Linked DNA regions of Homo sapiens: region 1 is linked to region 2. The links come from fine-mapping of genetic effects on gene expression. A gene starts in region 2. The other region holds a variant in brackets. All regions are shown on one strand. Distances are between the middles of the regions. Region 1 has its middle 20 kb from the start of ZNF467. Region 2 holds the start of ZNF467 (zinc finger protein 467).

Region 1 (5,362 bases), 20 kb after region 2:
TTATGGTATTGTGAATCATGCTGCTGTGAACAGGAGTGTACATATGTCTGTTTGAGTGCCTGTTTTCAGCTCTTTTGGGTATATACCCAGATATGGAATTGCTGGATCATATGGTCATTCTATTTTTAATTTCTTGAGGAGCTGACATACTGTCTTCCACAGCATCTGCACCATTTCACATTCTCACCAGCCATGCATGAGGCTTCCAATGACGCCACATCCTTGCCAACAATTGTTATTTTCTGGTTTTTGATACTGGCCATCCTCATGGCTTTGAGGCGACATCTCAGAGTGATTTTGGTTTGCATTTTCCTAGGACCTGTACTTTTAAACACCAAGCTCCACTGTCCCCTTGCAGAGAGGGGTCTTCAGGACACACATTCAAGGTCTTCAGGGCACTCACAGACTCGCGGTTGGACCTAGTGGGTTGGTAAGAGAAGTATGTGCAAAGGATCATGGAACAAGGAGCAAGGAGCAGGGACTCACACCTGGAGATCAGGAGGGCATCTCTGAGGAGGTGAATTAACTTGCCAAGACTGTAAGCAACTGGGGACCAGGCTTCCAGCCAGCCGGGAAACCTGTTACACACACACGTGGCATTAGCATGCATCTGTCTCCTGGGAGAGGACAGTGCTGGGTGGCAGAGACCTGGGAAGAAGCATGAAGCCATGGAAGTTGGGCCTGGCTATCTGTTGCAAAATGTTCCCTTTCTAGACGCGATCATGAATCATGGAGCTACAGCTATGGGAATCTTTGTTGAGGCGTGGATGTCAGCTGTGATTTAAAATAGGTAGGAATCGGCAGGCAGAATGAAGCTTCATTTTCATAGAAAACATATATTATGGCATCCTGAATCGAGGCACTGAGAAAGGGTGGCTGATGTCCAAGCAGGTGATGTACCAAGGAGACCAGGCAGTGCAGACAGGTACAGCTCTGAGAGAACACCAGGAAGGAAGGGGGAAAGGAAGGTAGCAAAGTCTCAGGATGTGTTTATGGGGCAGGCAGATAGCAACCTGGGAAGAGGGTCGAGGCCTCACAGACTCCCAAGACACTGGCCAGCCTGGGCCCAACTCCAAGCCACAGTCTCTGTGAATTGCCTGAAAATTGTCCTGCTGACATTGCTGCCCCCTGCACACAGGCAAGGGGGGAGCTGTGCCATGTGGCACTGCGTTCACCGAAGCTGCTGTGTTCGCTTCCTGAGGCCTCCTTTACAAAGTGCTACACACTGCATAGCTTCAAAACAGCAGAAATCTATTCCTTCACGGTCTGGAGGCTATGAGTGTGAAATCAGGTGTTACACTCCCTCTGAAGGCTCAAGGGAAGACTCTGTTCCAGGCCTTTCTCCTGGCCATTTCTTGACTTATAGACACAGCACTTCAATCTCTACCTCCATCCTCCCATCACCTTCTTCCTGGGTCTCCTCCACTCTGGGCATGTCTGTGTCCCTCCTCTTCCTATAAGGACAACAGTCATATTGGAGAACGGCCCACCCTAATGACCTCATCCTGATTTTATCCGCAAAGATCCTATTTTCAAGAGGCTATATTCATAGGTTGGGGCCAGGGCTAGGACTTCAACACAACTTTTTGGACTTCTTGGGGGGCGCAATTCAATTCATAACAGAGACCTTGAGTAAAATACTGTGTCAAAGTTGGGGGAGCTGAGGCTGAAATGAGGGCTCCTGGTATTGGGAGGGAATGGGGCAGTGCAGCTCTAATCAGAGCCCATGAGAGTGGACCTGTGGGTCCAGGCAGCTCTTACCCCAGGAGCTCTTGGATCCACCCTGTGCTATGTTTTGGAGATGTGTCATATCATTCAAAAAAGCCAAAAGAGGCTGGGCACTGTGGCTGACACCTGTAATCCCAGCACTTTGGGAGGCCGAGGTGGGAGAATCACTTGAGGCCAAGAGTTCAAGACCAGCCTGGGCAACATAGGGAGACTCCATTTCTAAAAAAAAAAAAAAATTTAATTACCCAGGCATGGTAGCAGGCCTGTAGTCCTAGTGACTCAAGAGGCTGAGGTAGGAGGATGCCTTGAGCCCAGGAGTTTGAGGTTACAGTAAACCAAGATTGTATCACTGCACTCCAGCCCGGGTGACAGAGCAAGAACTTGTCTGAAAAAAAAAAAAAAAAAGATAAAACATAAACAGTTTTGCTTTGTGTTACTTTATTCTTCGTGTGATTTTTAAATTTAAATTTTTCCTAGTCCTATAACAGTAAAATAGCTTTGATAGGACAGTAAACAGTTGACTTTTAGGAGACACTAAGAGCAACTGGGAACTCAGCCTTTTTCCATCAAACATGACTGTTTTGTTTGGTGTTTCTGTAAACTGTGTTTATGTGTCGGGGGTGGTGGTGTGCACACCAGGATTTACTTGTAGAGAGACATAGATGAAGGAAGGAGACAGCCTCCCGAGGAAGATGTTGCCTATGCTGGGGAGAGGGCTTGAAGGGGAGCCGGGGTGGGGGTTGGCGAGGTGGGTTGAGGGTGGGAGGGCTTCTGCTAGTATGTTCAGGGAGACAGATGGGCCGACTGAAGGCAGACAGGTTGGTGAGTGCGTTCACGGGACATGCTGGTTTCCAGTAGTGAAAGATTCTTTCTGCTCCTGGGACTCAAGAACCTGCTCGTAGTTGTTAACTCCAGGGTCCTGGGGAGGCCACCCATGCCCCACAGGGAAGAAAACTTCTTCACTCACTTACTGATCCTTGAAATGTCTTTTAACCAGAGACAAGTCTTGTATTTCACAGTCAGAGGGAGTATGCAAGACCCCCAGAAGAGGGCGCACGGCCACAATTCCACGCTGGTGGAAGGACTGGAATCCTGTCCTTCCCTGGGAACCCTCACCTGGGGAAGGATGAGTGAGTGTCACACTGAGGCCTCCCACAGTGGAGAAGCAGCAACGGAGAAGGAGGCCCCAGGAACCCTAAAGACAGAGACTTTAAGGTCGGGAGGGTTTCACAGAGGCTTTAGGAAACAGATTTATCCAACTGCCACAAAGGACTGAGCCTTCAGGCGTGGGATTAGGTCAGCCTTGGGGCAGGGGACATTC[T/C]TGGTCAATAGCAGGACTTTGATTTACGTAACGGGCTTATGCAATGTCATTACATAACATCATTAGGGGCATCGCAAATCGGATTCTATTTCAGGCTCTACAGGAGCCAGACCCAGGGCTCCCCTCCGGCCCAGCAAGACAGGATTCCCGTGGGCCCAGTGTCCCTGTCCTCGCTGGGATTTTCTCTCTTGAGATTTCACTGTGGGGCTTCCAGGAGAACTCCTAAGGCCTCAGGATCCTCTTTCTCCAGAATGATGGAGCTCGCGTCATAGCACGCTCATCCTTTGCAGATGCCTGCCCTGCTGCCCCTGCTGCCCCTGACCCTCCCAGTACTGTCCCCCCAAGCCCAGGCCAGTGGGCAACCTTCTCCTATCAGGTCCCCCTCTGACTTCTCCCCAACTCCTGCTTCCCCATCTATCCTCCAACTGTCAGGCTGATCTTCCTTATAACTTATTACGCCCCAGCTTAGAAACTTCTGCTCATCTGAATATCCAGAGGCCTTAGCGGTTGACACATTGTGCCACATTATTCTGTGTGTCCCTCTGGGGGTGGCAAGCTTCCCTGGCACAGAGCAGAGTGCCCACCTAGCCAGTGTGCAATACATGTCTGTTCTAACTCAAGGCTCTCTACAGTTGGCCCCAACAAACTTTTGAAACTTATTTTCCAAACCTCCTGGGTACACACCCTCCCTTACACCAAGCGGTCTTGTTCCTGTCTCCGGGCCGTGTGGTCCTTCCTGCCTCCTGCCCCGGCCTCCCTGGGCTTCCCCATCACAAAGTGCCTACTGCCCTGACTTCCCTTTTAAATCCTACCTATTTTTCGAGCACAGATGGGGGCCACCTCCTGGGGGTGTCCTTCCCCAATGATCCCAGCACACAACAATCTCCTCCTTTAAGCTGTCATGGTTCCTCTGCTTCCCACCTTACCAGATGTCGCCTGCAGTTGTTGGGTGTGTCCGCGTGTGCCTAAAATGTGTGAGTGCCTCCTGTGACTGAGGCTCCTACTTAATTCCCCTAAGCCCCCTTTGGTACGGGGTTGCTGTCCTCACTTCTCAGGTAAGGAAACCGGGGTTTAGAAAGGTTACACCCTTGTAGGAGCCTCATCTCTCCAGGCCCACTGGGAACATCTCGAGGGCGGAAGTCGTGTTTTTTTGTCTTGGTATTTCCAGGACCTGGCACATTTGAACACTCACAACACGTATGTTGAATTGTACAGGTGGAAGAGGAGCCTTTACAAGGCCTACCCATCTCAAAATCCCTCCCCTACCGGATAATCTGAGTGCCTAAAATCCACCCCTGCAGAGTTATAGCTGTGAACTAAGACAGGGTGACAGCAAACACAAATCCCAAAGTTAATAAATTCAGCGATCTATTTTTTCATGTGGCTGCTGAGATGGTTAAAGCTAAACTTACTGCTCAAATGCAATTATGTGAGTTAGATATCTGGTATGTTTCACATACTCTGCATGTCCCATTTAAAGCCTCACTGTAATATACCACCTTCGTTGGCCGTTACTGCAAAGTATATGTATTAGATGAGAAGAGAGCTACCTGAACTAAGAAGAGAGCTGAGAACCACACTCAGGAAAGCAGACAGAAAGGGGAAAGCAGGAATGTCAGTGTTGGAGAGGCCTGAGAATTTTCTAGGCTGTCGGTTCCTAACCTTTAGCAAACCACCAAGCATTTAGTTGTTTAAAGCTCCCTTCAGAGTAATGTGCATAGAAACAATGATTTGCACGTAATTTTAGAGGGTATGTGGACACCCTCTTTAAGCCCCTCTGTGGGCCCACATGGTCCGCAGAGCTGGTTTAAGAACCTCTGCTCTCATCCTGCATGACAGAACGGAGGCCTGGAGGAGAGAGGTTCTGCTGGGGCCTGAAGGGTGGGAGGGAGGGAAAGAGGAAATCCATGATTTTGCAGGGCAGGCCCTGCTGGCTAGTTTCCGGTTCTCCTTGTCATCTTGTGCCTGGGCTGCCCCTGGCACAGGAAGAGCCTGTGTGGCCAGAGGAACCTGCTTCCCCTCCACCCAGCTCTGCATGCCCCTCCCTGCTCAGCGGGCTGGGGAGGGTGGAGGTCCCAGGGTCCCACAACTAAGGTGGGCTCACATTCTGGGACCAGATCAGGACTCACAATTACCCCACAGGAGACTTCCACCCATCCCTCTCCCCAACCCAGATGGAAGCACACTTGCCTAGCTGGGCTGGAGGCAGATGACACACCTAGGGGGCCTGCCGGGGGCCTGGGTTGGGAACAGAAGCCCCAGCTCTGCACTCTGAGAGCTGTCCCTGAGTTATCCCCCACCCCTACCCCTGTG
Region 2 (5,362 bases):
CACTCCCAGGGGTGGTTATTGAAGTAAGGAGGATGCTAAGGTAGGGAGAGACACTCATGGGAAGTGGCGGGGGTGGAGGGAGGATCCCGGGGGTGGGGGGCACGGAGTCTGATGCCCCAGAGGGTCCCTGGGCATGCGGCAGAAGGAGGACCCTTGTCAGAGGGGTCCAGGGTGGGCTGCTTACCCGTCAGCCAGGGCCCACGCCATCCCAAAGAGGAGGGCAGGGAGTAGCATGGTGCCCTCACCCCCAGGGCACCTTTGGGGAACGTGAGGCTTGGGCTCAAGAGAGGCAATGCTGCAGAGAGGGCAGAGAGGCCAGCGGTGCTCTCTCCTGCCCCACGCAGCCTCCCCGCAGCCCAGTGGCCAGTTCTGGGGGCTGTGGGGGGCTTTATTCCAGTCTCATGCCCCAGGGCACCAGCTGCCCACAACCGGATTGGACCTGCCACACCAGCCCCTCAGAGGCCAGCTCTCCCTGGAAACAGTCTCCTTCCTGTCCCCTTCCAGTGCATCTGTTTCCCTTTGTGTGTGTGTGTGTGTGTGTGTGTGTGTGTGTGTGTGTGTGTGTGTATTTTCACACTCTCAGGCACTACCACAAATTAACATGGGGCTCTGGGCAAGCCACCCTCCATTTCTGGGCCTCAATTTCCTTCCCAGTAAAAATTTCAGGGACTTCCCAGGGATGCACAAATAGGTCTCAGACTCCAGTAATTCTTTGAAATTGTATGTGCACATTTTTCTGAAGACAGTTCTATACTTTTATTAGATTCTCAAGAGGGCCATGACCCCATGAAAAGGTTAAGAGCTCCTGGGCTAAACGACTGATGGGGTCTTCCAGCCTTGAACTTCTGCCTGGATGATGCTCCCCTGCCTCCCGCCCCTCTCTTGCCCAAACTGAGGAGTCGGGGGCAGTGAGTGGGAGCACTTCTAGGGTAGCTGGGGTTCCTGAGTGTGTGGAGATGCGTGGGCAACATGTACCCTTTTCTCCAGGGTCCAGTTTCTTGCTGGGGATGATTATGTGTGGCTGGTTGGGCCCACCCTGTCTCCTTCTTCGAGGGTCTCCTAGAGTCTCTGGGGTCTAGAACTGGGGAGCCTATGCTGAGGAATGAGAGGACCCTCTGGAAGGAGTGGGCGGGGGAGCCAGCTCCCCCAGCCCTGGGGCAGAGCTAAGCCGGATGAAATAATCCGAGAATCCGGCTGGGAGGGGCAGTGACAGGCTCCACAGGGGAATCCGGGGTCCACCCTGGTCCCAGCAGAGCTCTGAGCACACCCGGACACCCGGGCTGGAATGCAGCCTGGCTCCGACTCCACACCCCTCGGTCTCCTAAACCTGATATCCCTCCGAGTATCCTGTAGAGTCATTCCACCTAGGGGAGGAAGGGGGCTGCTGTTAACCAGAGCTGGGCCGGGCTCTCCTTCTCCTGGGTTCACCATTGGTCCCAGGGCCAAAAAAGGGCCCAGAGTGAGTCTCTCAGGGGGTCACGGATGACTGGGATCAACTCCTGCTCTGGAGTCCTCAGAAAGAGCCACACGCACACCCAGACACCCCCCTTTCCTGTTTTACACACATGCACACTCTCACTGTAAGTCTCACAACACCGGCACAGGTGCTCGGCCACACCCCAGCACGCACAGTGACACATGCTACTCCAGGTGCTCCCTTCATCCTGGAGGCAGAGGAGCCTTCACAGCTGAGCCCGAGTGATGGGCGCTCTTCCAGGCACTCATCCTTGTGGTGGGCTGTGGTAGCAGGAGCTCAAGGGCCATTCACACCCTCCCCTTCCCAGCCTCACTCAGCTCTGGATTCAAACCGGGGCTGATCAGGCAGCACTGGGATTGGGAAGAGACCCGAGTTGCAGTCACCCTTTCCCGTAAAGGGGCAGAAGGGAGGAAGCTGGAACCCAGGGGTTTGGAGAAAGTTCATGGAGAGGAGACCGGGAACTAACAGTCCAGACTTCAGCATCTCCGGAGCTTTCAGGAGTGGGCGCAGCGGGAACAAGGCCAAGGAGAAACCTCGTAACCTGGGCAGGGAGGGCGAGTGGAGTCCCCTGAGGAGCTGGGGCTGAGGGCTGAGGGCTGAGGGCTGCCCTCCACATCTAACTCCAGGTGGTGTCCGGGCCAGCAGGCCCCCCAGCAATCGTCTCCCGCCCATAGAGCCCTCCCCTCTCTGCAGCCCCCTCCCAGACCCTCCCCCGGACCCCGCCCTCAGAATCTCCGCCCAGCCCCGTCCCAGCCTTGCCCCCTGGAGCTCCCGACCTGGCCCGGCCTTCTCCCAGGGGACCTGGCTTAAAGTCCTCTCCCCAGTTTCTACTTCGAAGGACCCGTTCTCGCAAGCACAGGGGCCCAGCCCTCTCTCCCGCCTGCCCCCACGGCTCCCGCGGCTGGTTTCGAATCGGGTCCTCGGGACTCCAGGCGAGGGGCTGCGGGTCTGGGTGGATCGGGGTGGAATCCGGGTGGAGAATGGGGGCGGGGCCGGAGTTTCCCAGACCGACCCCCCGGGCCGTCCTCCCGCGGGAGCGCGGCGCTGCACACCCGGCTGGCACCGGCGACTTAGAGACGGCAGCGCACGACTCGCTGGCTCCCCCCCGACACGGCCCCTCCTCGTTCCCCCAACTCCTCCCCGCCACCCCCCCACCCGTTCGCGCTCCACCTTTCCCCGGCTCCTCCCTCCGCGGCCGCGAGCACCCTCCCTTGGCACCCTTCCCCGCAGCCCGAGTGCCTGTCCTCCCCAGCCTCCTCGCCCTCCTCCACCCCCTCTCCCATCACCCTCCCCTCCCCTCCCCTCCCCTCCCCCGTCCTGAGCTCCCACTTCCACACCTACTCCAGGCTCGGAGCCTTAGGACCATCACCTGCCCACCTAAGCCCACGGTGCTCCCTCCTGGGACCCCACTCCTGAAACCCCCTGCCCCTGCCTCCCCCAGCCCGGTGCGCCGGGGCTCTCCGCCCGCTCCCTCGGTCCCTCCTCCCTTGCAGGCGCCGTTTCCCGGCTTCGACTCCCCGCGCGTCTATCCCTCTCCTCCCCGCGAAGTTTCGGGGCTGTCAGTCTGTCAGTCTTTCAGGCCGTCAGCACCCGAGCTGCAGGCGGCGAGCGCCATTGTGAGCAGAGCCGGCGGGGCAGGAGGCCCGGGCGCCTGGGTCCCCGCGGCGCGGGCGGAGCGGCCGGCCAGCCAGGTAAGGGCCGGGGAGGCTCCTCTGCAGGCGGCCCCGCCCGCGTCTCCCTCAGCGCCGCGGTTGGGTCACGGCCGGCTCCGCGCAGGTGACAGCCCCGGGGGTAGGGGCGCGGACGGCGGGCGTGGGGGAGGGGCGCGGGTCCGGGGAGGTCGGGGGCTGGGGGGAAGGGAGGGCAAGGCCGGCGCGGGCAGGGTGAGGGCTGTGGGGGTAGAGGAGACCGGGGGGGCTGGAGGGAAGGGCGGGGGCTGGGAGGGGGTCGGGCGGGAGGCAGGTGGGAAGGGGGACGACGGGCCCCGAGGGGAGGAGAGAGGGAGTGTGGGAGGGGGCCGAGGGGGAAGGGGAGGAAGAAGCGGGCGCTGGGGACCGGGCCACTCGGTAGGGGCGGGAGAGGAGGGCGCTGACAGGTGAGCCCCGGAGCTGGGGAGGGGGCCGGGACCTGGAATGAAGTCGGCGATCGGAGCTGCTTGGGAGGGCGGCGGGGCAGGGAGGTGGAGCTGAGGGTCCCGTCGGGAGGAAAACTTGGGAGGGGTGAGAAGTCCGAGGGGAGCAGAAATAGGGAGGGGGCGCCGCGGCGGAGAAGAGAGGCGCGGAGGGGTGTTCGGAGGGGAGACGGAGTGGGGAGGGCAGGGCCCGCGGGAAGGTCCCGAGAGAGCGGGTCAGCCCTAGACCCCCAGGCTTGGGGGCCGGAGGACCCGGGAGCTGGGAAGCAGCCTGGGAGGGGGGAGGGGAAGAGCGGTTCTGGGGACTGGGGACGGGGAGGGAAGCGAAGCTGGAGCCTGCTGGGGAGACAGAGGGGGAAGGGAGGCGGGGGCCTCGGAGGGGAAGGAGAGCTGCAGAAGGGAGGGGGGAGGGGGAGGGCGGTGGGGAGACGTGGGGGAGGGCTGGAAAGGGGGAGGGGAAGGGAACCGAGGTGAGGCGAGGAAAGGAGAAGGAAGGGAAACCGGGGTGGGGGAGGAGAGGAGGGAGGGGAGAGGAGAACTGGGTTGGGGAAAAGAGCTGAGAGGAGGAGGGCGGGGGTTGGCGAGGAAGGAAAAGAGGAGGGGGAAAGGAAGGGAGAGGGTGTGCAGCCGGGGAGGGAGATGGAGCGGGGGAGAACCGGGAGGGTAGGGAAAGGCAGCCTGGAGTCTGAGAGGGGGAGGGGAGCGCTGCCGCCGAGGCGGCCCGGAGCGTAGGGTCAGGGGAGGCGGTGGCAGCGGAGGGCCGACCCGGACGGGGCCTCGAGGGGTTGGCCCTGCCGGGCTCGGGCGGGCGGAGCCTGAGGGGCGGGGCCGGGGGCGGAGCCGAGGCGCCGGCCCGATTCGCAGGGGAGAGAGGGCGGAAGGCAGAGGGAGCGGGAGGGGCGGGGCAGAGGGAAGGCTGCCGGGGAGATGGGGGAGGGGAGTCTGCTGGGGGAGGGGCGGGGGAGCCGCGGAAGGCGGAGCAGGGAAGGGGCAGCAGGGGCGGTGTCCGGGCCTTGGGCAGCCCGGCACGGGTGAGAGGTGGTTTTGTGGTAGGGGTTTAGGAAGAGGCGATCATTTTCTAGCTACAAGAGGATCCTCTCGAGGACCTCCCCAAGCAGTACCCCTAAAGTGACACTCACTCCCGCCCCTGGGCTGGCTCCTATTTCACCAGCTCGGGCAGTGACAGCTGGAGGACCTGGGAGATGAAGTTTCCCACTCCCCACCCTGGGCTCCCACCCTCAAGCCTCTCCCCAGAGAATCGAATCTTGCCTGCACTTTCCCAGGCAAGGACGCTGGGGCGTGGAGTTGCGGTGCTGATGGGCCGGGGTTGGCGGTGACAGACCTGCCAGGTGAGGGGGTGGCGCGGCTGGTTTCCAGAGCTGACAGAAATCGTTTCAAGGCCTTCTTGGGCCACCTTCAAAGATCTCTTGGCTTGGCTTTCTAAACCCAGTTTCCCAAATTTCCCCCAGCTGTACCTGGGGATGTCACCTTTGGAGCTCCTGGAAGAGCCCATAGGGAGAGGTTGGGCAGAGCCAGGGCCCAGGTGGAAGCTGGCGTGGGAAAAATCTGAACAAGGCTGTCTTTTCTCCATAGGTTCTGTGGCCTGATCCCCAGGAGGAGCTACTCTGGGTTACCATGAGAGAGACCTTGGAGGCCCTCAGCTCCCTGGGTGAGCTGGCAGAAATGAAGGGACTTGGGGAAAAGCTTAGGAGGATTCAGGGGCATCTACAACTCAGACAGCAGAGCCACCCTCA

The links. PIP is the estimated chance that this variant, and not a neighbour inherited with it, causes the effect.
Region 1: its variant is fine-mapped to the expression of ZNF467 in blood mononuclear cells (TOPMed, PIP above 0.99). The same link has a PIP of 0.9 or more in monocytes.

What each region holds. Positions count from the first base shown.
Region 1 is chr7:149,751,262-149,756,623 of GRCh38, reverse strand. No RefSeq gene overlaps it. Among named protein-coding and RNA genes, the nearest start is that of ZNF467, 20 kb to the left of the region's middle. The variant T/C (reference allele first, on the strand shown) is at 3,050.
Region 2 is chr7:149,770,914-149,776,275 of GRCh38, reverse strand. ZNF467 (zinc finger protein 467) reads left to right here and starts at 2,688. Exons shown (of 5, transcript NM_207336.3): 1 at 2,688-3,168; 2 at 5,202-5,277. The coding sequence starts at 5,244. It also overlaps the pseudogene SSPOP. RefSeq lists silencers at 3,066-3,245, 4,182-4,331, 4,342-4,661, 4,672-4,761.